Linked DNA regions of Homo sapiens: regions 2 and 3 are each linked to region 1. Evidence: fine-mapped expression QTL. A gene starts in region 1. Each other region holds a variant in brackets. All regions are shown on one strand. Distances are from middle to middle. Region 1 holds the start of RNASEH2C (ribonuclease H2 subunit C). Region 2 has its middle 4.2 kb from the start of CATSPER1. Region 3 holds the start of CST6 (cystatin E/M).

Region 1 (8,175 bases):
CCTGGCGAACACGGTGAAACCCCGTCTCTACTAAACACACAAAGAATTAGCCGGGCGTGGTGGCGGGCGCCTGTAGTCCCAGCTACTCGGGAGGCTGAGGCAGGAGAATTGCTTGAACCTGGGAGGCAGAGGTTGCAGTGAGCCGAGATCTCACCATTGCACTCCAACCTGGCTGACAGAGTGAGACTGCGTCTCAAAAATAAATAAATAAATATAAAAAAATCAGCCGGGCATGGTGGTGGGCGCCTGTAATCCCAGCTACTCGGGAGGCTGAGGCAGGAGAATCAGGAGAATTGCTTGAGCCCAGGAGACGGAGGTTGCAGTGAGCCGAGATTGTGCCACTGCACTCCAGCCTGGCTGACAGAGCGGACTCTGTCTCAAAAAAAAAAAAAAAAAAAAGGAGAGGAAAAAAATGCGTATTTCCTAGCTTTGTCCACTGGAAATATCTAGAAACAAAGGCTAACTCAGTAGCAATGAATACATCTAGTATCAGATTGGATTACTAAATATCATTTCCCACTGAAGGGAACCAGCGATCTTTGGAGAGATGTATAATTCCAAGTCTGGGGCAGGAAATGTACAAGATGAGCCAGGAACATCTTGTGGTACTGGAAAACAAAGATATGTATAAAAGATCACTAGGGTCATATCGAAAGATTCAGGAGATAACTTGAAGAGGCTTCCACTGGCAGAAGATGGGGAAATTTGCACCTCAGTAAGAATAATAACCACAATTATGTGAAACATAAAAGTGTTAATCCATTATTTATTATTTTTATTTATATTTATTTATTTAATATTTATTTAACATTTTTAAAAGGTCACCATTGGAATATGCTAGGGCAACAAATCATTATTTTAAGAACTGGAAAATAAAAGGATTTTTTTGAGATGCAGTCTCGCTCTGTCACCCAGGCTGGAGTGCAGTGGCTCGATCTCAGTTCACTGCAACCTCCACCTCCCGGGTTCAAGCAGTTCTCCTGCCTCAGCCTCCTGAGTAGCTGGGATTACAGGCATGCGCCACCACGCCCGGCTAATTTTTGTATTTTTTAGTAGAGATAAGGTTTCACCGTGTTGGCCAGGCTGGTCCCGAACTCCTGACCTCAAGTGATCCACCCACCTCAGCTTCCCAAAGTGCTGGGATTACAGGTGTGAGCCACTGTGCCCGGCCTAATTATTTTGTCTTTCTTATCCTCACTGTACCAACAGGCAATCAAATGGCTGATGGGGAGAGTTTTTCTTTATAGACCTATTTCAGCTAGTAAATGAAGAAGAAATGAGAGGACTTAGAATATCAGTTTTAGGCTGGGCACCATGCCTCACGCCTGTGATCCCAGCACTTTGGGAGCCCAAGGGAGGGGAGCAGATCACTTGAGGTAAGGATTTGGAGACCAGCCTGGCCAACATGGTAAAACCCCATCTCTACTAAAAATACAAAAATTAGCCTGGCATGGTGGCATGCGCCTGTAATCCCAGCTACTCAGGAGGCCAAGGCAGGAGAATTGCTTGAACCCGGGAGACAGAGGTTGAGCTGAGTGAGCCAAGATCGCGCCACCGCGCTCCAGCCTGGGCTACCAGGTGAGACTCTGTCCCAAAAATATGTGTGTGTGTGTGTGTGTGTGCGCGTACACACGCGTTTTAACCTCTAATGAATTAAAGGATCTAGGCAATGATCATCTATGGCTGCTAACCTCACAAAAAGAGGGAAAAACACAAAACCACCCATGAAGTAGTCTTGCCCTCTCCCCTCCCCAAAGAATCGAATTAAGCTTCTAGATGTAATTACAGAAAATACAGGTATAGATTACCTTGACACTATAGGAATGCAATTACTAATATCCAGACTACAGGAAACTTGCAAAACCAAAAACATAAAAATAAAAAATAAGATCCAACATCTACTCCCAATTTTTAAAAGCTCTTAGTAGTACAGCTTTAATGAGACATATATAACAAGTCAAAAGGCAGTTTCATGATTATTGGTGAAACAGCAGAAGCACTCCCGTGAAAGTTTCAGGAAAAAGACAATGTTGTCCTCTGATACCAGTAACATTTGAGAGACTGTTCTGCAAGTACTGGCCAAGGCAATTAGAAAAGAAAACAAATTACAAGGTGTAATGAAAAAAAAAAAACAAAAAACAAAAAACAAAAAGAAGATGTAATGGTGAGGTAAAAATTATTATTTGAAAGAGAGGTGACTAATTCTGGGGATCTTAAAATAAAATAAAAATCATTAGGAACAAAATAATTCAGTCGATATCTAGTTTAAAAATGGACATATAAAAATCAACAGGTTTGCTATAGACAAGGGGTCTGAAAACTATGGCCTGTGGTTCAAATCCAACCCCTTGTCTGTTTCTGCAAAGATTTACTGGAACACAACAACGCTCATTCATTTATGTATTGTCTATGACTGCTTTCATGCTATAACGGTGAAGTTGAGTAGCTGCGACAGAAGCCATAAAGTCCACAAAACCTAAAATATTTACTATTTGACCCCTTACAGAAAAAGTTTGCCAACCCCTGCTATAGATTAAAAAGAAAATCAGTTAGAAAATAAAATGAAAAAAATAAAAGCCCCAATTTTGGTTTTTAGAGAAAGGGTCTCCCTCCGTAACCCAGGCTGGTGTGCAGTGGTGCAATCGTGACTCGAACGGCAGCCTCAAACTCCTTGGCTTAAGTGATCTTCCCACCTTAGCTTCTTGAGTAGCTGGGACTACAGGCACATGCCACTGTGCCCCACTCATGTTTAAAAAAATTTTTTTCTTTGTAGGAACGGAGTCTTGCTATGTTTCCCAGGCCGGTCTCAAACTCCTGGCTTCAAGCAATCCTCCCCCATCTTGGCCTCCTAAAGCACTGGAATTACAGGTGTGAATCATCATGCCCAGCCCCTCAGTTCTTAATAGAAACAATTATTAATATAAGCTAAGAAGAAATAAACTTTACAATATGTATTAATAGCTATTATATATGAACAAAACCTCACAACTGTACAGATATCCAAGGAGATGTGAATAAATTGAATTATGTCTTTCCTGATAGAAAACTAAAGCAAGCCTTTTTCTAAATTAATCTGCCACTCTAGTGAAAGAGCACCAGGAATACATCTGCAGTTGAACAAATTGGGTATATTACTCCTGCACTCTGGGGAATTTCAATAAGAGGGTGCTAGAAAGGACTTATAGGAGGATTTGTGCCCATGTTCAGTGATTTCAGTCAGGGTTTAGGGAAGCCAGGCTTCTCTCTGGCTTGGATGCTGTCAGAGGTGGGGGTATGTCTATGACGGACTATCTTAATGAGTCTTGCCCAGAAGGAGAGAAGATTAGTTGGAGGCTAATGCTGTAATTGGTAAGGAAACAACAGTCACTCTCTTATGGGAGAAAGAGGGATGTTTCATGCCTTTTGTGGTTTGGACAGTGTTCACCTTTGCCAGCATTCAGATGTGACGATGGAGTGGTTCTGTTTCTGTCTTGCTCCCTCACGGTCACAGAGTGACCTTGTCCGATGCTGATGTTCTCTGAAATTGTTTATATTCAACAGAATACCAAGGCCAGCTCCCAGATGTGCAGGGATGTATAAATTAAACGCAATTTAAATCTAAATTTCCAGTTTTGTGTTTGTTTTATGTGAGAACTTGAAAAAATATATCTAAGTTGGGTGTCTGAACAAATAAACATTAGAGAAGAGCTGAGAAACCAAAGAGAGAAAATTGTGAAATCTAAAAGACTGAAAAGTGTTGATAAATTTGACTACAAAAAATTAGTCTTTGTCCTGGGTGCAGTGGCTCACGCCTGTAATTCCAGCGTGATTTGGGAGGCCAAGGTGGGCAGATCACTTGAGTCCAGGAGTTCAAGACCAGCCTGGGCAACATGGCAAAACTCCACCTCTACCAAAAATACAAAAATTAGCTGCGTGGTGGCGCAGGCCTGTGGTTCCAGCTACACAGGAAGCTGAGGATGGGGGATGGATTAAGCCTGGGAGGTCGAGGCTGCAGTGAGCCAATCAAACCACTGCACTCCAGCCTAGGCGAGTGAGACCTTGTCTAAAAGACCAAACAACCACAAAAATAAGTCCTTGTCCAGCAAAAATCACCTTTACACAGGTTTGCAAGACAGACCACAGATAAAACATTTTCAATGCATTTAAGAAAAGGGTTGATGTCCCTAATAAACTAAAAATGAATAACCTACCTACTAATCAATATAAAAAGAGTACTTTTCAGAATCGTTTTAGATTTTTACAACGACATGTGCCATTAAAAACAATAAAAGAAAAAAACCCGGCTGGGGGCGGTGTCTCACGCCTGTAATCCAAGTACTTCAGAAGGCCGAGGCTGGAGGATCGCCTGAGGTCAGGAGTTCGAGACCAGCCTGGCCAACATGGCGAAACCCAGTCTCTACTAAAAATACAAAAATTAGGTGGGCATGGTGGTGTGCGCCTGTAATCCCAGCTACTCCGGAGGCTGAGGCAGGAGAATCGCTTGAACCCGGGAGGCGGAGGTTGCAGTGAGCTGAGACCGTGCCTGGCACTCCAGCCTGGGCGACAAAACGAGACTCTGTCAAAAAAAAATAATAATAAATAAGAAAAAGAAAGAAAGAGGGAAGGACGGGAAGGAAGGGAAGGGAAGGGGGGAAGGAAGGGAGGCAGGGAGGAGGGGGAGGGGGGAGGGGGAAGGAGGGGGGAGGGGGAAGGAGAGGGGGAGAGGGGAGGGAGGAAAGAGGGGAGGGGGGAAGGAAGGAAGGAAAAAAACAAAACACAACTGGAAAACCCTAGGACTTGAACCCAGGGAAAGCGTTAGGGGGTAAGGGGACTACACTTCCCGTGAAGCTCCGCGGCGGCTTCCCGTGAGGCCCCGCGGAGGCTTCCTGAGAGGTCCTGCGCGCTTTCCGCGCCAGCTTCAGTGTCAGCTCGCGAGCCCTGGCGTCGCGTAGGAGGGAGGATGGAGAGCGGCGACGAAGCGGCCATCGAGAGGCACCGCGTCCACTTGCGCTCCGCCACATTGCGCGACGCCGTACCCGCCACACTGCATCTGCTGCCCTGCGAGGTTGCGGTGGACGGGCCCGCCCCGGTGGGGCGCTTCTTCACGCCCGCCATCCGCCAGGGCCCCGAGGGTGAGCCCTGCGGCCGGACTACGGCTCCCGGCAGCCCCCGCGCCGGCCTGCGCGCTTCTCATCGCCTGGGCTCCTGGGGATCGTGGTCCGTCCGGAGGTGGCGGGAGGGCAGCTCCGGGCTCGACCCAGCGTGGGTCCTGCCTGAGGCCCTTTGCGCCTCCCGCTCCAGGACTCGAAGTGTCGTTTCGGGGCCGCTGTCTACGGGGAGAGGAGGTGGCGGTGCCGCCTGGCCTCGTGGGATACGTGATGGTGACAGAAGAGAAGAAGGTGTCGATGGGGAAGCCAGACCCCTTGCGGGATTCCGGGACTGACGACCAAGAGGAGGAGCCGCTGGAGCGGGACTTCGTGAGCAAAGGGATAGGGTTGAAAGGGGGTGCGGGCGGGAGCTGTAGTCCCGATGCTGAGCCAGGCCCCTTCCCCAGGACCGCTTCATTGGAGCCACTGCCAACTTCAGCCGCTTCACCCTGTGGGGTCTGGAGACCATCCCTGGCCCGGATGCCAAAGTGCGTGGGGCCTTAACTTGGCCCAGCCTTGCGGCAGCGGTGAGTAGACGAGGAGTTCCGTCTTGCCCCCGGGTGGATGGGCTGGGGAGCACAATTGCGCAGACGGAGCCTGGAGGATTCTACTGGGTAGTGTGTGGGAAGCGTAGCTCCCTGACCACTCTTCCTAGCATGTCTAGAAGCGGTTATTCTGAACAGCTGGGTCCTTCCTCGGGTATGGGGGCCAGCTTGCCGCCCTGTCTTACAAGTCCAACAGTAGAGGCGACTCCTGTTGCAGATTCACGCACAGGTGCCCGAGGACTGAGAACCAGAGCTTGAAATTCAAAGCTGCGATCCCTTCACAGCAGTAAACCAGCTCTTTGGAACCGATTCCATCACCCCAATAAAGGAGCTCTTCACAGCACCTGTGAGTCTGGGCGCCTTAGAGCCCCTAAGCCAGCATGGGCCCTTTCCCCCTCCCCACCAAGAACTTTGCATGGCTCTGGCATATAGAAACAATTTATTGCCGGGGGCAATAGGGGTAAGAGAAGCCAGAAATTTTTGCAGCCAGCACCCACCCCACCCCCAACTTCTACTTTACAAAAGAAATTTTTACAATCACCAGCCCTCTGTACAGAGCTCCCCCATCCGGATCCCTTCTCACTGTACACAGCTGCCTGGCTCCCTCTGGTCCCTGCTTCAGAGGAGGCCTGGGCCTGTGGCCAGCTGACCTTGGAGTTGGTCTGAGCCCGGAGCTCGCCTTGGTGCTGGGCACCAGTGGGCCCCTGCCAGGCCTGTCCTCTCCTTTTTGAGCTGTCCTCAGCCCCATCTCCCTTAGAGTGCTTTGTGGGAGCTGCAGTGGGGGCGGGGTGGGCTATCAGCCCCAGTCCTGCTGCCGTCTTGGCACTGCAGTGGGCAGTGTCTGGTCACCACTTCCCCCTCTTGCTCCAGTCCTTGGGAGTGAAGTGCAGACACTTGGAGTCGATCCGCAGGAGCCGCTTGAGCATGGCCCGCTCATGGCCATCCACGATGTCCTCTGACAGTGTGAGGATGTACTGGCCCTGGGCAGAGGAGATGGGTTCAGCAGGTGGTCAGCCCACAGAGGACTGCACTCTGCATCCCACACACCTGTCTCCCCTGCCTGCCTCCCTACCTTGTAGTAGTTGATGAGATTGAGGTACTGCAGAGTGGAGATGACATCCTCCTTCTTGATGCTGGTGATTTCACTAATCTCACTGTGGGAGAGCACAGGTCAGGTTCCCTGAGGACCTTTATCTGTCCCCAGGAGCCCTGAGAGAGAAAGCCCAGGAACAGACAAGCCATGCCATGTACCCCCAGGTAGACAGCGCCAGGCTCACTTGATGGTGATCTGTGGCCTCTCCCCGCTCTCCGACTTCAGCCCCATCAGGATCTCCAGGATGGTCTGGGACCAGTAGCTTCGATAGGATAGGAGGCCAAGGTCTGAGAGGGGCTTCTCAGGGGTCCCTGTTTTCCCTTCCACTTTGGAGAGTTCATAGCCTAAAGCAATGGAGCAGGAGAGGGTGAGTAAGAGGTCACAGATGAACATAAGCAACATTTAAAAACACAGGTTGCCAAGGCAGGCTGCCTAGTTCCTATCATGGCCCTGCCACTTGGCAGTTCTATGCCCTCCACTTCTCTGTGCCTCAGTTCCCTCAGGAAGAACTGAGTATTCACTCTTTCCGTGCGCTGAGCACAGTGGAGGGCATGAGGGCACTGAGAGGAGCAGCTGCAGTCAACCATGAGGGTGATCAGAGGCCAGTGAAGGCTTATGGGCAGGGGATGCAGAGAAAATGGCTCATGGGAAGAAGGGGCCTCCAATTTTCCTTTGCCATCCCGGGCTCTGTGTCTAGCCATGTAAGGAAGTGGAGACAGATTCCTGTCTCTAATCCAGACCTGAGAATGCTTGAATTCTCAAAGTCCTCCTAGCTGGGACCTTGGGAGTGTCACCTGCTGTAAGACTTGAGTGGCCTGACTGGGTGGTTGTGAGGATGCAAGGAGAAAAGGTGCACCAAGGTGCTTCCTAAGTCGGGGAGACCATTCCTGGGAGCCACGTGACTGACCCCCACCATGGCTCTTTCCCTCCAACTCGTGCTGATAGCTGGCCGCTGGGAGGCCGTCCCCAGTGAGATCCTCAGACCCTGCACAGCCCTGAGTGGCTTCACATCTCTTGGTCAGTGTCTTCATTCTCCCCAGTCAGGGACCTGGGATGTTTGTTACTTCTAGAAGCCCTTCCTCACCCTCATAATGGACCTTAGCCCCTTGCTGGTCCCACTCACATCCCGTCTCCATTGCTGTCTGAGTTCCAAGACTGAGTTTCTTCAAGCATCCACTTGTGCTACCAGGCTGAGAAGTTCTGAGGATGTGACCCCATCTGGGCATCATTTAACCAATAAAATTTCTCGAATGGACCATAACCTTGATCAGGTAAAGCCTCTGTGTCTTCACCAGGTCAACAGCTAGAACTTCCTCCTTGTTTCTCAGGTCAGAGCTTGGTTATTCCAAGTGAGTGGTGAGACAGACAGAATGGGGGGTGATGGGGAGTAAGAGGCTGGGAAGAAGGGGCC
Region 2 (8,175 bases), 310 kb before region 1:
CTCCCATTGCCCCCTACGCCATCATATTCCAGCCACACTGGATTACATTCCATTCCCTGAACACAACGGTATGTCAGGTCAGCCTCTTATTGGCTCTTGAAAGCTGAATTGTGGCCGGGCACGGTGGCTCATGCCTGTAATCCCAGCACTTTGGGAGGCGGAGGCGGGCGGATCACAAGGTCAGGAGATGGAGACCATCCTGGCTAACACGGTGAAACCCCATCTCTATTAAAAATGCAAAAAATTAGCCGGGCGTGGTGGCGGGCGCCTGAAGTCCCAGTTACTTGGGAGGCTGAGGCAGGAGAATGACGTGAACCTGGGAGGCAGAGCTTGCAGTGAGCCAAGATCGCGCCACTGCACTCCAGCCTGGGCAACAGAGCGAGATTTCGTCTCAAAAGAAAAAAAAAAAAAAAAAAAAGAAAGCTGAATTGTGCAAGCCAGTTGTTGGACACAACCATTATTAAAAATTAAATTTTCCTTGGGCGTGGTGGCTCACGCCTGTAATCCCAGCATTTTGGGAGGTCGAGGCAGGTGGATCACTTGAGGTCAGGAGTTTGAGACTAGCCTGGCCAACATGGTGAAATCCCATCTCTACTAAAAATAGAAAACTTAGTTGGGCGTGGTGGCACGTGCCTGTAATCCCAGCTACTCAGGAGGCTGAGGCAGGAGAATTGCTTGAACCCGGGAGGTGGAGGTTACAGTGAGCCAAGATCATACCACTGCACGCCAGGCTGGGCGACAGAGCAAGACTCTGGTGCAAAAAGAAAAAAAAATTAAATTGTATAAAATTACAATTAAATAAATTGTATAAATAATAAAGACAATAGGCCGGGCTCAGTGGCTCGCACCTGTAATCCCAGCACTTTGAGAGGCCGAGGCGAGCGGATCACGAGGTCAGGAGTTCCAGACCAGCCTGACCAACATGATGAAGCCCCGTCTCTACTAAAAATACAAAAATTAGCCAGGCATGGTGGCGTGCGCCTATAATACCAGCTACTCAGGAGGCTGAGGCAGGAGAATCACTTGAACCCGGGAGGTGGAGGTTGCAGTGAGCCAAGATTGCACCACTGCACTACAGCCTGGGCGACAGAGTGAGACTGCGTCTCAAAAAAATAATAAATAAGTAATAAAGACGATAAATACTCAAAACTCATCACTTACTAATTAGTTTACTACAATTTACTTTTTTTTTTTTTTTTTTTGAGACAGGGTTTCACTTCCGTTGCCCAGATGAGTACAGTGGTGAGATCTTGGCTTACTGCAGGCTTGACCTCCCTGGGCTCAGGTGATCCTCCCACCTCAGCCTGGCATCCCTGGTGCCACTCTGTCAGGCTAAATCTTTTTTTTTAGTAGACAGGGTCTTACTATGTTACCCAGGCTAGTCTCAAACTCCTGAGCTCAAGCGATCTGCAGGCGTTGGCCTCCCAAAATGCTGGATTACAGGTGTGAGCCACTGTGCCCAGCCAGTAGTGTGTTATTTACTGCCTATCTCTTCCAGGACAGCACTTGGTGGTGTTACATTGATAGCCTGAAATCAGCCATCGTGAGAGTATTTACACTACAAATCAACAAACATTATACATCAGAGGTTTTATTGATTTGTTGACTGTCTAGACCAGGGATGAGCAAACTACAAGCAAATCTGGCTTACCACCTGTTTTTGTAAATAAAGTTTTATTGGAACACAGCCACATTCATGCATTTACTTCTTGTCTAATGCTGTTTATGCTCTACACTGGCAGAGTTGGGTAACTGCAATAAGATCATATGGCATCCAAAGCCTAAGACATTTACCACTTCGTGGAAGGAGTTTGCTGACCTCTAGCCTGGATTTAAGAAAACACTGGAGGGGCCAGGCACGGTGGCTCATGCCTGTAATCCCAGCACTTTGGGAGGCCAAGGCAGGCAGATTACTTGAGGTCAGGAGTTCGAGACCAGCCTGGCCAACATGGTGAAATCCTGTCTCTACTAAAAATACAAAGATTTGCTGGGCGTCAGATTTGCTGGGCGTCAGGGCAGGTGCCTGTAATCCCAGCTACTTGGGAGGCTGAGGCAGGAGAATTGCTTGAACCTGGGAGGCAGAGGTTGCAGCGAGCCAAGATTGCGCCACTGCACTCTAGCCTGTGCAACACAGTGAAACTCAGTTTTTGTTTTTGTTTTTTTTTTGAGACGGAGTCTCGCTCTGTCACCCAGGTGGGAGTGCAGTGGCGCAATCTTGGCTCACTGCAAGCTCCGCCTCCCGGGTTCACGCCATTCTCCTGCCTCAGCCTCCCGCGTAGCTGGGACTACAGGCGCCTGCCATCACGCCCAGCTATTTTTTTTGTATTTTTAGTAGAGACGGGGTTTCGCCGTGTTAGCCAGGATGGTCTCGATCTCCTGACCTCGTGATCCACCCACCTTGGCCTCCCAAAGTGCTGGGATTACAGGCGTGAGCCACCGTGCCCGGCCGAAACTCAGTTTTTTTAAAAAAAGAAAAGAGGCTGGGCTTGGTGGTTCACGCCTGTAATCTCAGCACTTTGGGAGCACAAGGCGGGTGGATCACCTGAGGTCAGGAGTTCAAGACCAGCCCAGCCAACATGGCGAAACCTCGACTCTACTACAAATACAAGAATTAGCGGGTCGTGGTGGTGGGCACCTGTAATCCCAGCTACTTGGGAGGCTGAGGCAGGAGAATTGCTTGAACCCGGGAGGTGGAGGTTGCAGCAAGCCGAGACTGCATCATTGTACTCCAGCCTGGGTAACAAGAGCAAAACTCCGTCAAAAAAAAAAAAAAAAAAAGCAAAAAGAAAAGGAGGGAAGGAAGGAAGGAAGGAAGGGAGGGACAGACAGACAAGACAAGAGCGCCAAGCATGGTGATTTATGCCTGTAATCCCAGCATTCTAGGAGGCTGAGATGAGAGGATCACTTGAGCCCAGGAGTTTCACACCAGCCTGGTCAACATAGTGAGACCCAGTCTTTACAAAAACAAGGTTTAAAAATTAGCCAGGTGTGATGGTGCATACCTGTAGTACCAGCTACTTGGGAGGCTAAAGGGGGAGGGAGAATTGCTTGAGCTCAGGAGTTTGAGGTTACAGACAGTGGTGAAGGAAAATTCTCCCAGTGGGTGGAACTTTGGGGCAATACATCTGTGGATGCTTTCTGTGGAGGAAAGGTGGCCTAAGGTACAGATTTACATGGACTGGTGAGCAGCATCTGATAGGCTGGCCAGCTGCAGAGACTTTGAAAGAGCACAACTGGCAATCTGATGGCCTAGGAGACAGGACTGTGGCCAGCTTCTCAAAATAGTCACAGGGTGGGAAGATTCCCATATGAAGTGCCCATCAGAGAGCCATCGGTGCAGCAGCCCTCGGTGATGAGATGGGATGACTCATGCTGTAGATTGTGTCAGCCTCTTTACCTGGCCAGACCCAGGCTTTCTCAATGGTCCCATACAGAGTGCTCCACCACCAGATGTCTGCGTGTGCTAGAAAATGGCTGTGCTCAATTGGCCGGGCGCGGTGGCTCACACCTGTAATCCCAGCACTTTGGGAGGCCGAGGCAGACGGATCACTTGAGGTCAGGAGATGGAGACCATCTTGGCTAACACGGTGAAATCCTGTCTCTACCAAAAAAATACAAAAAAATTAGCTAGGCCTAGTGGCGGGCGCCTGTAGTCCCAGCTACTCGGGAGGCTGAGGCAGGAGAATCCCTTGAACCTGGGAGGTGGAGGTTGAGGTGAGCCGAGATCGTGTCACTGCACTCTAGCCTGGGCGACAGAACGAAACTCCGTCTCAAAAAAAAAAAAAAA[G/AG]AAAGAAAGAAAAGAAAAGAAAATGGCTGTGCTCAGGCCAGGCGCAGTAGCTCATGCCTATAATCCCAGCTACTCGGGAGGCTGAGGCAGGAGAACTTGAACCTGGGAGGCAGAGGTTGCAGTGAGCCAAGATCGCATCATTGCATTCCAGCCTGGGCAACAAAAGTGAAACTCTATCTCAAAAAGGAAAAAAAAAAAAGAATGCCTTGTCTATGTTTTTATACAGTGCTTTTAATTCATTTCAGTTTTTCTAAGTTTTTTTTTTTTTTTTTCCGAGACAGAGTCTTGCTCTGTCACCCAGGCTGGAGTGCAGTGGCACGATCTTGGCTTACTATAACCTCCACCTTCTGGGATCAAGCAGTTCTCAGGTCTCAGCCTCCTGAATAGCTGGGACTACAGGCTCCCACCATCATGCCCAGCTGCATTTTGTTTTTGTTTTTGTATTTTTAGTAGAGCTAGGGTTTTGCTATATTGGCCGGGCTGGTCTCGGATTACTAGCCTCAAGTGATTCACCTGCCTCGGCCTCCCAAAGTTCTAGGATTATAGGCATGAGCCACCATGCCGGCTTTTCTTTTAGTTTTTAAAATTAAAAACAAATATATTGCCAGTCTTGGTGGCTCACGCCTGTAATCCCAGCACTGTTGCCCAGGCTGGAGTGCAGTGGCACCATGTCGGCTCACTGCAACCTCCGCCTCCCAGGATCAAGCGATTCTCCCACCTTGGCCTCCCAAGTAGCTGGGATTAGAGGCACCCGCCACCACACCCAGCTAATTTTTGTATTTTTAGTAGAGACAGGGTTTCACCATGTTGGCCAGACTGGTCTCGAACTCCTGACCTCAGGTGATCCTCCTGCCTCAGCCTCCCAAAGTTCTGGGATTACAGTCGTGAGCCACCACGCCCAGCCTGCCTGGCCACATTTTTTAAATTTTATTTTATATATTTTTTTGAGACGGAGTCTCGCTCTGTTACCCAGGCTGGAGTGCAGTGGCGCCATCTCGGCTCACTGCAAGCTCCGCCTCCCGGGTTCACGCCATTCTCCTGCCTCAGCCTCCCAAGTAACTGGGACTACAGGCGCCCGCCACCACGCCCGGCTAATTTTTTGCATTTTTAGTAGAGATGGGGTTTCACTGTGTTAGCCAGGATGGTCTTGATCTCCTGACCTCCTGATCCACCCACCTCGGCCTCCCAAAGTGCTAGGATTACAGGCATGAGCCACTGCGCCCAGCCTGCCTGGCCAGTTTTTAAAACATTTTCAAGTGAGTGAGTCTTTGTTGAATAAAGGCAAACGTTTTGCTCCATCATTACTTTTCATCTCCAAGAGTTTCTGACACCAGTGCCTCTCTGTGAAGAAAGCAGTGTGTTGTGACAACATCAAGTTTTTGTTTGTGGTTTTGTTTCTTTCCAAGAACAGTAAAAATTCTTATGGAGCTAACCACTGATTTGAACCATCAGTATAAATGCCAAGGTAGTTCTTCCAAGACAGACTTTTTGATGATTCCTGATATGAAATGACATTAAATCTATCTTGGCTTTTTGTTTGTTTGGAAAAGCTGAAACATTTTCTCGATGATCATGCTGACCATTTACAGATCTTACTAGTGCTATGGCGTGGTAAGCATTCACCATTTTATTGGTGAAATAAGTTGACTCATCAGCCAGGATAAAGATTATGTTGTGGCCGGGTGTGGTGGCTCACGCCTGTAATCCCAGCACTTTGGGAGGCTGAGGCGGGCGGATCACGAGGTCAGGAGATCAAGACCATCCTGGCTAACATGGTGAAACCCCATCTCTACTAAATATACAAAAAATTAGCCGGGCGTGGTGGCGGGCTTCTGTAGTCCCAGCTACTCGGGAGGCTGAGGCAGGAGAATGGCGTGAACCCAGGAGGCGGCATTGCAGTGAGCCAAGATCGCGCCACTGCACTCCAGCCTGGGCGACAGAGGGAGACTCTGTCTCAAAAAAAAAAAAAAAAAAAAGCAAGTTGTTTTTCAGTTTATTATCAAGAAAACAAAAACGAAAACCTGTTCAGTATCAGAGATCATGTCATCAACATGTGAGGTTGTTGTTCTCTCTCAGGGTAGAGTCTTCTCTTTTTCTTTCTTTCTTTCTTTTTTTTTTTTGAGATGGAGTTTCGCTCTTGTTGGAATGGTGTGATCTCAGCTCACTGCAACCTCCGCCTCCTGGGCTCAAGCAATTCTCATGCCTCAGCCTCCCAAGTTCCCAAGCAGCTGGGACTACAGGCGCACACCACCACATCCAGCTAATTTTTTGTATTTTAGTAGAGACAGGGTTTCACCATGTTGCCCAGGCTGGTCTCAAACTCCTGAGCTCAGGCGATCCACCCGCCTTGGCCTCCCAAAGTGCTGGGATTACAGGTGTGAGCCACCATGCCCAGCCCACACAAATTGTTTCTTTGTCTGCTGCTGGCAACAGATAGTGAGCTCCTTAAAACAGGAGCCGTGTCTCTTTCATCACTGGGAACCCAGCAGCCACTATGGACATGGCTCTGACCAAGCACTCAAGAAGCTGAGACCCATAAGCTTCCAGAAGAGCTGCGCTGTGCACATATGAATTCAGCATACAGGGCAAGCTCTGCAGTGGATTCCAGGAGGAAGACAGGACAGCATGAAGGTTACAGATACAGACTTGGAGTGAGATAGCACTGACGGTAAGTTTTCATTCATCAAGCAACTCATTTATATTCTCTGAGCCATAGCACCTTTGTCTGTCAAATGGGGATAAACAATATCTACCATGTGGGGCTATTGTGAGGATTAAATTTAATGTGTATGGGCCGGGCACGGTGGCGCATGCCTGTAATCCCAGCACTTTGGGTTGTCGAGGCGGGCAGATCGTTTGAGATCAGGAGTTCGAGACCAGCCTGACCAACAGGGTGAAACCCCATCTCTACTAAAATACAAAAGAAGTTAGCTGGGCGTAGTGGTGCACGCCTGTACTTTCAGCTACTTGGGAGACTGAGGCAGGAGAATTGCTTGAATTCAGGAGGTGGAGGTTGCTGTGAGCTGAGACCATGCCACTGCACTCCACCCTAGGTGACAGAGCAAGACTGTGTCTCAAAAAAAAAAAAAGAAAGAAAGAAAACAAAATGTGTATGAAGCAATCCTCAATAAATGATGGCTGATAGTTTAATTTTGGTAATAACCCTAAAGGGGGGTTCCAAGATCAAGAAGAGAATAATAATGCCAATTAACATGTATTGGCCAGGCATGGTGGCTCACACCTGAAATCCCAGCACTTAGGGAGTGCGAGGTGGGTGGATCATTTGAGGTCAGGAGTTCAAGAGCAGCCTCGTCAACATGGTGAAACCCCGTCTCTACTAAAAATACAAAAATTAGCTGGGTGTGGTGTGCACCTGTAGTCGCAGCTACTAGGAAAGCTGAGGCAGGAGAATTGCCTGAACCCAGGAGGCAGAGATTGCAGTGAGCCAAGATTGCACCCCGGCACTCCAGCCTAGTGACAGAGTAAGACTCTGTCTCAAAAAAAAAAAAAAAAAAATTAGCCGGGGTGGGGTATGGTGGTGGGTGGCTGTAATCCCAGCTACTCAGGGGGCTAAGGCAGGAGGCTCACTTGAACCTGGGAGGCAGAGATTGCCATGAGTGGAGATCATGCCGCTGCACTCCAGCCTGGGTGACAGTGAGACTGTCTCAAAAAACAAAAACAAAAACAAAAAAACATGGGCTGGGCGCAGTGGCTCACACCTGTAATCCCAACACTTTGGAAGGGCAAGGCAGGCGGATCACGAGGTCAGGAGATCAAGACCATTCTGGCTAACATGGTGAAACCCCGTCTCTACTAAAAATAGAAAAAGTTAGCCGGGCGTGGTGGTGGGCGCCTGTAGTCCCAGCTACTTGGGAGGCTGAGGCAGGAAAATGGCATGAAGCTGGGAGGTGGAGGTTGCAGTGAGTCAAGATCGTGCCACTGCACTCCAGCCTGGGCGACAGAGCGAGACTCCATCTCAAAAACAAACAAAGAAACAAACAACAACAACAACAACAAAAACCATGTATTATGCTGTTAATATAAGGCTTACATATCTTAACTTTTTTGATCCTGTGGGCTAGGTATTATTATTCCCATTTTACAGAGGAAGAAACTGAGGCACGGGAAAGTTCAGCAACAAGCCCAAGGTCACACACCTACTTATGAGGGAGTCAGGCAGTCTTCACCCCAGAGCCAGCTGATCTCTAGATGGGACTGAAGACTGGACCACTTGGACCATTTTCTTTCCAACAACAGGGCTAAAGTAGCTGATGAAGCCATGGCGCCCCCATGGACTTCTTTGTCCAGCTTTGCCAGTGACCTGTGAGGTCACCTTGGTCTAGTCCTTCCCTTTTCTTGACCTCGGTTTCCTCATTTACAATGAAGGA
Region 3 (8,165 bases), 290 kb before region 1:
CATTCATCTCCATCTCCTCGGAGTACCTTGCTGTGTTCATTGTTTCCAGTGTTCTTTGATGAATGGGTTGACAAGATGGCGGGGAGGGTGTGAATGGGACAATGGGTAATGTGGTGGGCAGATGAGTGGGTGGAGGGACAGGTGGGTGACTGACTACACAGCATGATGAAGGTGTCAATGGGTGGGTGGGGGGTGGCTACAGGGAAGAGCAGGTGGGTGGAGGGGGAGGTGAGTTGTGAGTGGCTGGAGGGCCAGATGGGTGAGTGACTGGATAAGGAGGTGGGTGGATGGATGGGTGGATGGTCGAGTGGGCGTATGGGGAGGAATGGGGCTGACAAATGGGTGGGTGGAGGGATGGGTGGTTAGGAAGATAAACAAAGCCAGAAGCCTCTGCGCTACAGGCAGACTTGGGCTCTTTCTCATATCTGGAAAAGGAGACCTCCTGGAAATGCAGGTCTGCAGTCATATAAATTTTGTGGGGAGGAGGCAGGCAAGAAGAGCCTCTGGGTGGTTCTGGGGTGCAGTAGGCCCAGCCAGCAGGTCAGCCCAGCCCCTGTCTCTGCGACCCCCCCGCCCACCCGCAGGCAGCAGGAGCTCCTGTTCCATTACCTGCAGCTGGTGGCAAGCGTGGAGCAGGAGCAGCAGAAGTTCCGCTCCCAGGCAGCCGTCATCGATGAGATTGTGGACACCACATTTGAGGTGAACCAGGCAGGAGCGGGAAGGGGCCGGCGAGGGGAACCCCAGGGGCTTGTAGCCAGAAATGGCTCCAAGTAACTCCCATGGGGATCGGGGAAGGCAAAGTCTGGCTCATTCACCCACCAGTGCCCCACTCACCCCTGCAGGCTGGAGAAGAGGACTTCAGGAATTGACCCCAGGAGGACACCAGATACAGACTTCAGCCCCTGGCAGTCTGCCCACCTGGGTGCACTGGGACGGGTCCCCAGATCTGCTGGAATGATTGTCCGGGCCCTGCAGAGCAGGGGCCCCAACAGAGTTTTTAAACCCCAGGAGGCTCCATGTCCTCACTGACTAGGCCAAGGCGCAGGGAAGGGAATTGGTGCACACACACGAACGAGTGTGTGCCCGTGTTGCATGTGAAAGGAGCTGCTCTTGGATCCCCTCCAGCCCTACCAGCGCCCGCATGCTAGCTCAGCCCAGCAGGGCATTAGCAGCAGCTGGAGGGATGAAGCAGAACGTGGGCTGAGCTCAGGTGCCGGCGGTGCCGGGAGGGCCGAGGAGGCAGTAACCCTGCTTTGGGGAGGAAGGCCCATCTGGCCCAAGAGTCAGGAGAAAAAGAATAGGCCTGAACACCCCAGGGTTACCAGGGCCTGGGGGCCCAATAGGCTCTAGGAATGGGGACTCAGAGCCCAGGAACTCAATCCTACCAGGACCCTCAGCTCCAGTAGAAGAGCACCAACCGGATGGGGATATCATGAACCCAGAGGTCGGAGGTCATTGCCATATCCTGCCCTTTCTGGGGTCAGACTCTAGAGCCCCACTGAGGGGAGGTGGAGTCGGGGCTGCTCAAGTCCTTCTGGCCTCAGGGCAAGGGGCGGGCAGGGATGTGTGGAGGACCCTGCTGCTGGGAGAGGGAAGCAGGGAATGAGGCTGAAGGCTGCGCCCCATTGCCTGCTCTAGGACTTAGATGACCTCCCCGACTGATAGCCTGAGCCTAGGCTGGATGTCCAGAGCCCCTGTCCCCATGGCTGGGGGTGACAGTGGGACACTGGCCTATGCTGGGTGCTGGAGACCTAGCACTGAGTCAAGTTCAAGCCTCGCCCTGGCCCCAGGGGTCTCTCCTTAAGTGGAGGGTTTTCCATTATCTACAACAGCCATCTCACCTCTAGTAGAGGCGAATCCAGGGTGCAGTTCAGGCCGGAGGGAGTCAGGAGCGGGAGCTGAAGGGCAATAGTTTTTTGCCAACCCTCCCATCTCTGGACCAGACCAGTCAGTGCTGGAGCTTCCAGGGTCCCAGGACAGAAGAAGCACCTCCCCTCCCTGGTCTGGCGGAAGGCACTGGCTGGCCCAGGGCCCAGGGCCCAGGAATAGACTATGCGGAGGAAATGCCATCTGGGATTTGGGCACAGATTCCAGGGGCGGAGAGGTCACCGGGCAGGCGTCTCTGGGCCTTGCTTCTCTCCACCACCTCACACATTCATTCAACAGGCATTTCCTGCCACCCACCCTGTGCCTGCCCCATGCTGGGAGTCCCTGCTTGGTGGCACATGGGAGCCCTTCCAAGCAGCAGGCCCCGCACACACCCTGGGCTGTCTGAGCTGCCACATCTGACAAGCTTGAGCAGAAGCAGGGCTGGATGTTGTCTCCTGGGTCCCCAGCTCCTGTCAAATGCCACCCCTCAGCTTCTCACTCCCAGGTGGGACCCAGGGTCTACTTCCCGTTTCCCCGTCTCTACCCCAATCTGGCCTCCAAAGGCCGACAGCAGGGCCTGGGAGCTGGGGCTGCTGCTTATTAGGCCCCAGCCTTGGGCAGGGGACCAGGCAGGCACAAGCAGGGTGTGAGGCCTTGTCAGAAAGGAAGGACCGTGGGATGCTCTCCGCAGCCACTGCAGTGCTGCCTGCCTGGGCCTGATGGTGCCTATACCTAGCACCCCCAAGGCCCATATCCCAAGTGTGGGTGTGTGCTTGTGCATCTGAGGAACCTCTGGGTGTGGCATGTGGGTCCTTGGGTTGTGTTTGAGTTTTGTGTGTACATCTCCAGGTTGTTTCTCTAGGGTGTGTTGCTTCTGTGCTCATGAGTTGCTAGGCTGTGTTTCTCTGGGTATGCATGTGATATCTGCCAGCATCTGAGTGTGTGCTCTGGGTGTCTGTGTGTGTATGTCTGGTGTGTTGTGCTTTGGGTGTGTGCGTGTGTATATGTATGGGGGGGTATGAATTGCAGCCACAAATTCAGATGTGCAAATGTTGCAATGCTGTTTTCTTCTTCTTTTTTTATTTTTAATTTTTTTGAGATGGAGTCTCGCTCTGTCTCCCAGACTGGAGTGCAGTGGCGCAATCTCGGCTCACTGCAACCTCTGCCTCCTGGATTCAAGCGATTCTCCTACCTCAGCTTCCTGAGTAGCTGAGATTACAGGCACCTGCCACCACACCCAGATAATTTTTGTATTCTTGGTTGAGATGGGATTTCACCATGTTGGCCAGGCTGGTTTTTTTTTTTTTTTTTTTTTTTTTGAGATGGAGTCTGGCTCTGGCGCCCAGGCTGGAGTGCAGTGGCGCCATCTCGGCTCACTGCAAGCTCCACCTCCCGGGTTCACGCCATTCTCCTGCCTCAGCCTCCCGAGTAGCTGGGACTACAGGCGCCCGCCACTACACCCAGCTAATTTTTTGTATTTTTAGTAGAGAC[G/A]GGGTTTCACCGTGTTACCCAGGATGGTCTCGATCTGCTGACCTCGTGATCTGCCCGCCTCGGCCTCCCAAAGTGCTGGGATTACAGGCGTGAGTCACCGCGCCCGGCCACCAGGCTGGTCTTGAACCCCTGACCTCAGGTGATCCATCCACCTCAGCCTACCAAAGTGCTGGGATTACAGGTGTGAGGCCGGCTGCAATGCTGTTTTCTTTAAATGACATTACATTGAATCTGTCCCCTCACCCCTCCTGTGGGCGCTAGACAATCTCTGTCCCTCTGCGGCTCCTAGTCTAGCCCCTTTCAGGCGTCTTGCCCAGGGCAAGGCAAGAGAGGCGTCCTTGTGGCGTGGAGCCCACAGTGTGGACTGAGAGGCACTGTCCTAGCCTTCATGGTCTCTTGGCCTGCAGGGACTCTGCCATCGTTGGGCCACATGCAGGTGGAGGAATCTTTATAGGCTGGGAGCTCAGTGTCCTGGGTGAGGACACTGCCTGATTGAAGCCCCCCATGCCACCCATGAGCTCCTCCTGGGGCTGAGTGGGAGCACAGCACAGACTCCTCCTCAGAGTGCTCCCAGGCAGCCGGCCCTGTTCTTATCTCAGGCCATCGCCCCTCCTCTGTGAGTCTGCCGCCACCCCTGACCTCTGAGAATATTGGGAGTCTCTGGCTGTGTGTGGGGGCTCTAAGGTTTGTTCCTCTATGCCTGTGATGCTGGGGTGTTTGGGGGCTCCACATTTGGAGGCTCAGCCCTGCACCTTCAGCACTGTCTGGGCTGGGACAGCAGCAGCTCTGCTGCAGGTGGCAGGGTGACCTCTCAGCTTGGGCTGGGGAGCTGGGAGCTGCCAGAAGTGGGAGTGGGGGATGGGGGCAGAAGCGAAGCACTTGGAAGAAACCAATGCAAGAAGCAGCACTGGCCATTTATTGTGACAGATACGGCCCACGGACCTGAAGTGCCCTCCACCATGGCCCCAAACCCAATGGCCTTCGCCCTCGGGGACTTATCACATCTGCACACAGTTGTGCTTTAGGAGCTGAGAGGAGTTCTGCCAGGGAACCACAAGGACCTCAAAGTCACAGCGCAGCTTCTGTGGAGGGAATATGGGGGAGAAGGAGGGGTGAGCCCAGCCTCGACCTGTCTCCTCCCAACAGCCAGCCCTCTGCCTGCCAGGCTGCTCCAGGCCAAGAGAGGGACAATCACTGACCCAACGGATGTCAAGCCGCATGTCTGGGGCTAGACTCCAGATCTTGGTAGCCAACTTCCCCATTCCCGAGGGAAGCCCCAGCTTCCTTTCTGCACCCCATCTTGGCCCAGAGGCTGACTCATCCAGAAGGACGACAGGTTCAGCCAGACATCTAGACATCTACGTGTCCAGCCAAACCAGTTCAGGATGGACAACCTGAGTGCCTGAGGCTCTGGGGAGGGCTGGGGCTGGAGGAGCCCAGCTGTTACCTCCTGCTGCGCCCCTGCTGCCAGGGGGCAAGTGGTGAGGTCGACGTGGTCTCCAGTGACCCTGGTCTTGCGGCAGTCTGTGCTCCCCATCTCCATCGTCAGGAAGTACTTGATGCCGGCCACCAGCTGGGGGCATAGGGTAGGGGCAGGTCAGGGGTCTTGACCCTTGATCCTCACTTCTCACCTCTTGATATATTCTCCTGTTGCCCCCAGGCACTCAGGTGGGGAGAGAGGGAGAGGGGATGATTCAGACGGGGTGGGGGGGGGTGGGGGGGGGTGGGGGGGGGAGTTCTGGTGGGGATGGAGGGTGGAGAGGCCTGGAGGCTGAGCCCCACCAGCAGCCTTGGCAGACATCAGACATGCCCCATCTAGGGAGCTGCCCACTGTCCCCACCTGCCTTCCCTCCTCCCCGATCCACCCCATCAGGGCAGAGACTAGGACCAGGCAAGCCAGGAAGGCAGGTAGTGCAATACAGGGTTTAATTATGTCTTTCCTTGAAATTTAGATGGTTGTCCATCGTGGAGTTTTAGCATTAATTCGATTTTTAAAATATTGCATGAAAATATCCCGATTGCGCTTTTAGGCCCCCTTCATGCACGCTGGGGCAGCGCCTGTGGCCTCCCCCATCTGGGCCGGGTGTCCCCTCCCAGCACCCCGCCCGCCGCACCTGGCTCTGCGCCTTGATGATGTGCGTGTCTCGGAAGTAGTAGATGCTGTTGCTGCCCATGTTGTAGCTGGCCACGGCCGCCTGCGCCGCCTTCTGCACCTGCGGGTCGTCGGGCGACAGGTCCCGGAGTTCTCCGACCATGCGCTCCTGCGGCCGGGCCCGGGCGTCGCGTGGCAGCGCCAGGAGGCAGAATGCGACCAGGGCCAGGCCCAGCGCCAGCGGGAGGTTCGAACGCGCCATGGCCGTCAGTGCCGTCGGAGCCCTCAGAGCCGTGAGTGCCGAGCTTGCGGCCGCGCAGCTTTTACCCGCTGGGCCGCCCCGCCCGACGCCCGCGATGCGCCCCCGCGGCCTGGAGCTGGGGCGGGGCTCGAAGTTGCCGGGGTCCTGCGAGGTTCAGGGAGCCCAGGAGGCCGAGGGGGCGGCGCGCACCCGCGTGCCAAGACGCTTCCCTGCCCTCCAGGACACACCTGGCCCGGGGAGGGAGAGGACAGCGACAGTCCCCAGCAACAAGTGCCAGTACAGGGACGGTTCACGGGAGGGCTGTCCAGAATGAACTACCAACCGCAGCTCTTCGTGGGCTCTTACTGTTGCCACCATTTCCTAGCTGTGTAACCTCGGAGAAGTCACTTAACCACTCGCTGCCTCAGTTTCCTCTTCTGTACAATGGGTGTTGTGAGGATTCAGTGAGCTGAAACAGGTAAAGTTCTTAGAAGAGGTCTGGTGCTGGATAAACAGCAGGTGAGTAGGACACATTACTGCTCAGCGCTGCCTGACAACCTTCCTGGAGCGCGAGTGACTAATGTTTCTACCTGGCCAGGCACCTAGGCATGCTTGTAATTCCAGCACTTTGAGAGGCCAAGGTGGGAGGACCACTTGAGCCAAGGAGTTCAAGTCAGTGAATCGTGATCTCACCACTGCAGCATTCCAGCCTGGGCGACAGAGCTAGACGCTGACTCAAAAAAAAAAAAAAAAAAAAAAAAAAAAAAGAAGGCCGGGCATGAGGGCTCACACTTGTAATCCCAGCACTTTGGGAGGCCGAGGCAGGCAGATCACTTGAGGTCAGGAGTTCAAGACCAGCCTGGCCAACATGGTGAAACCCCGTCTCTACCAAAAATACAAAAATTAGCCAGGCGTGGTGGCACACACCTGAATTCCCAGCTACTCAGAAGGCTGAGGCAGGGGAATTGCTTGAACCTGGGAGGCAGAGGTTGCAGTGAGCCAAAATGGCACCACTGCGCTCTAGCCTGGGTGACAGAGAGAGACTCTGTCTCACAAAAAAAAAAAAGAAAAAAGAAAAAAAATAGTTTCCACTTTACAGAGAAGGGAAAATGGATTTGCCCAAAGACACCGGCAGGAAATAAATGGTGACACTGGCTTGTGTGTGCTGACAGTCTAAGTCAAATCTGTGGTCTTAAACCAGACTGAGCCCACAGGACACAAACTGCCCAGAAGGAGGGGGTGTCAGTCATGTCAGCTCTGCCATCTTACTGACGGCATGGCTTTGGGCAAGTCCCTCAACCTCCCACACAGAGCCTCCGTGCCCTCGTCTGAAAGACACCTTATCTCCTAAGTTTGTTCTGATATTGATGTTTCGAATCTGGCTGTCCCGTGGATACAGTGAGCATGTGCTGGAGGTACCAGCAAACAAGGCCCATGACTGTGTTTTTAAAGACTCCAATAATTGCCAGGTGTGGTGGCTCACGCCTGTAATCCCAGCACTTTGGGAGGCCGAGGTGGGCAGATCACTTGAGGCCAGGAGTTCGAGACCAGCCTGGCCAACATGGTGAAACCCCATCATAGCCCGCACGGACCTAGGGGGACTGAACAAAGCCGGGCAAACGTGGGAATAAAAGACAAGAGACAAAAGAGTATATTTGGAAGAAGGGGTCAGGGGGCACCTTGCCTCTAGTGGACAAGGGCCCTGAGCTTTACACAGCCCTCTGTATGTAGTAGGCAAAAGAGATAGCGAGAAAGGGGGAGGGTGATTGTCGGGTATGTCAGGTAATTGTCGGTCAGCACTTTGGTTCACAGCAGGCTTGTGAGACTGCATCCTTTGAACAATAGGTGCTAATTTTCTCAGTAGATAACTTCAGGGACCCCAGTGCCAAGGAGTAAGGCCCTCAGCAAACCTTTTGGTGGCAGGGCAGTGGGAGTTTGCCCACATCCTGCATTCGTGATAAACAGGTGGCTGTTTGATCATATAGCCTTCAGTGGAATGCTGAGTTGGTCACAATCCCTTTGGCCCTTTCGGCTCCCAACACCCCATCTCTACTAAAAATACAAAAATTAGCTGGGTGTGGTGGTGCACACCTGTAGTCTCAGCTACTTGGGAGGCTGAGGTGGGTGAATCACTTGAACCTGGGAGGCAGAGGTTGCAGTGAGCTGAGACGGCACCCACTGCACTCCAGCCTGGGTGACAGAGCAAGACTCTATCTCAAAAAAAAAAGACTCCAATAATTAATTGATTATTATTAATAGGTGGTGATCTATTAATCACACGGTAGCTCACACCTGTAATCCCAGGACTTTGGGAGTCGGAAGCAGGAGGATCACTTGAGGCCAGGAGTTTGAGACCAGCCTGGGCAACATAGTGAGCCGTCTCTACCAAAAAATCTAAAATAAATTAGCTGTGCATGGTGGTGCACGCCTGTGGTCCCAGCTACTCGGGAGGCTGAGGTGGGAGGATTACTA

What was found. PIP is the estimated chance that this variant, and not a neighbour inherited with it, causes the effect.
Region 2: its variant is fine-mapped to the expression of RNASEH2C in whole blood (INTERVAL, PIP 0.96).
Region 3: its variant is fine-mapped to the expression of RNASEH2C in whole blood (TOPMed, PIP above 0.99).

Annotation. Positions count from the first base shown.
Region 1 is chr11:65,717,523-65,725,697 of GRCh38, reverse strand. It overlaps RNASEH2C (ribonuclease H2 subunit C), which reads left to right and starts at 4,900. Exons shown (of 4, transcript NM_032193.4): 1 at 4,900-5,111; 2 at 5,281-5,456; 3 at 5,534-5,653; 4 at 5,889-8,025. The coding sequence starts at 4,940. The coding sequence ends at 5,915. KAT5 (lysine acetyltransferase 5) reads right to left here. Exons shown (of 13, transcript NM_182710.3): 11 at 6,949-7,108; 12 at 6,744-6,825; 13 at 6,094-6,651. The coding sequence ends at 6,517. RefSeq lists an enhancer at 4,755-4,824 and a silencer at 4,975-5,214.
Region 2 is chr11:66,026,617-66,034,791 of GRCh38, reverse strand. No RefSeq gene overlaps it. Among named protein-coding and RNA genes, the nearest start is that of CATSPER1, 4.2 kb to the right of the region's middle. The variant G/AG (reference allele first, on the strand shown) is at 3,788.
Region 3 is chr11:66,009,594-66,017,758 of GRCh38, reverse strand. It overlaps CST6 (cystatin E/M), which reads right to left and starts at 5,751. Exons shown (of 3, transcript NM_001323.4): 1 at 5,475-5,751; 2 at 4,808-4,933; 3 at 4,254-4,442. The coding sequence starts at 5,714. The coding sequence ends at 4,359. CATSPER1 (cation channel sperm associated 1) reads left to right here. Exons shown (of 12, transcript NM_053054.4): 11 at 585-699; 12 at 843-1,007. The coding sequence ends at 869. RefSeq lists an enhancer at 3,694-4,269. The variant G/A (reference allele first, on the strand shown) is at 3,361.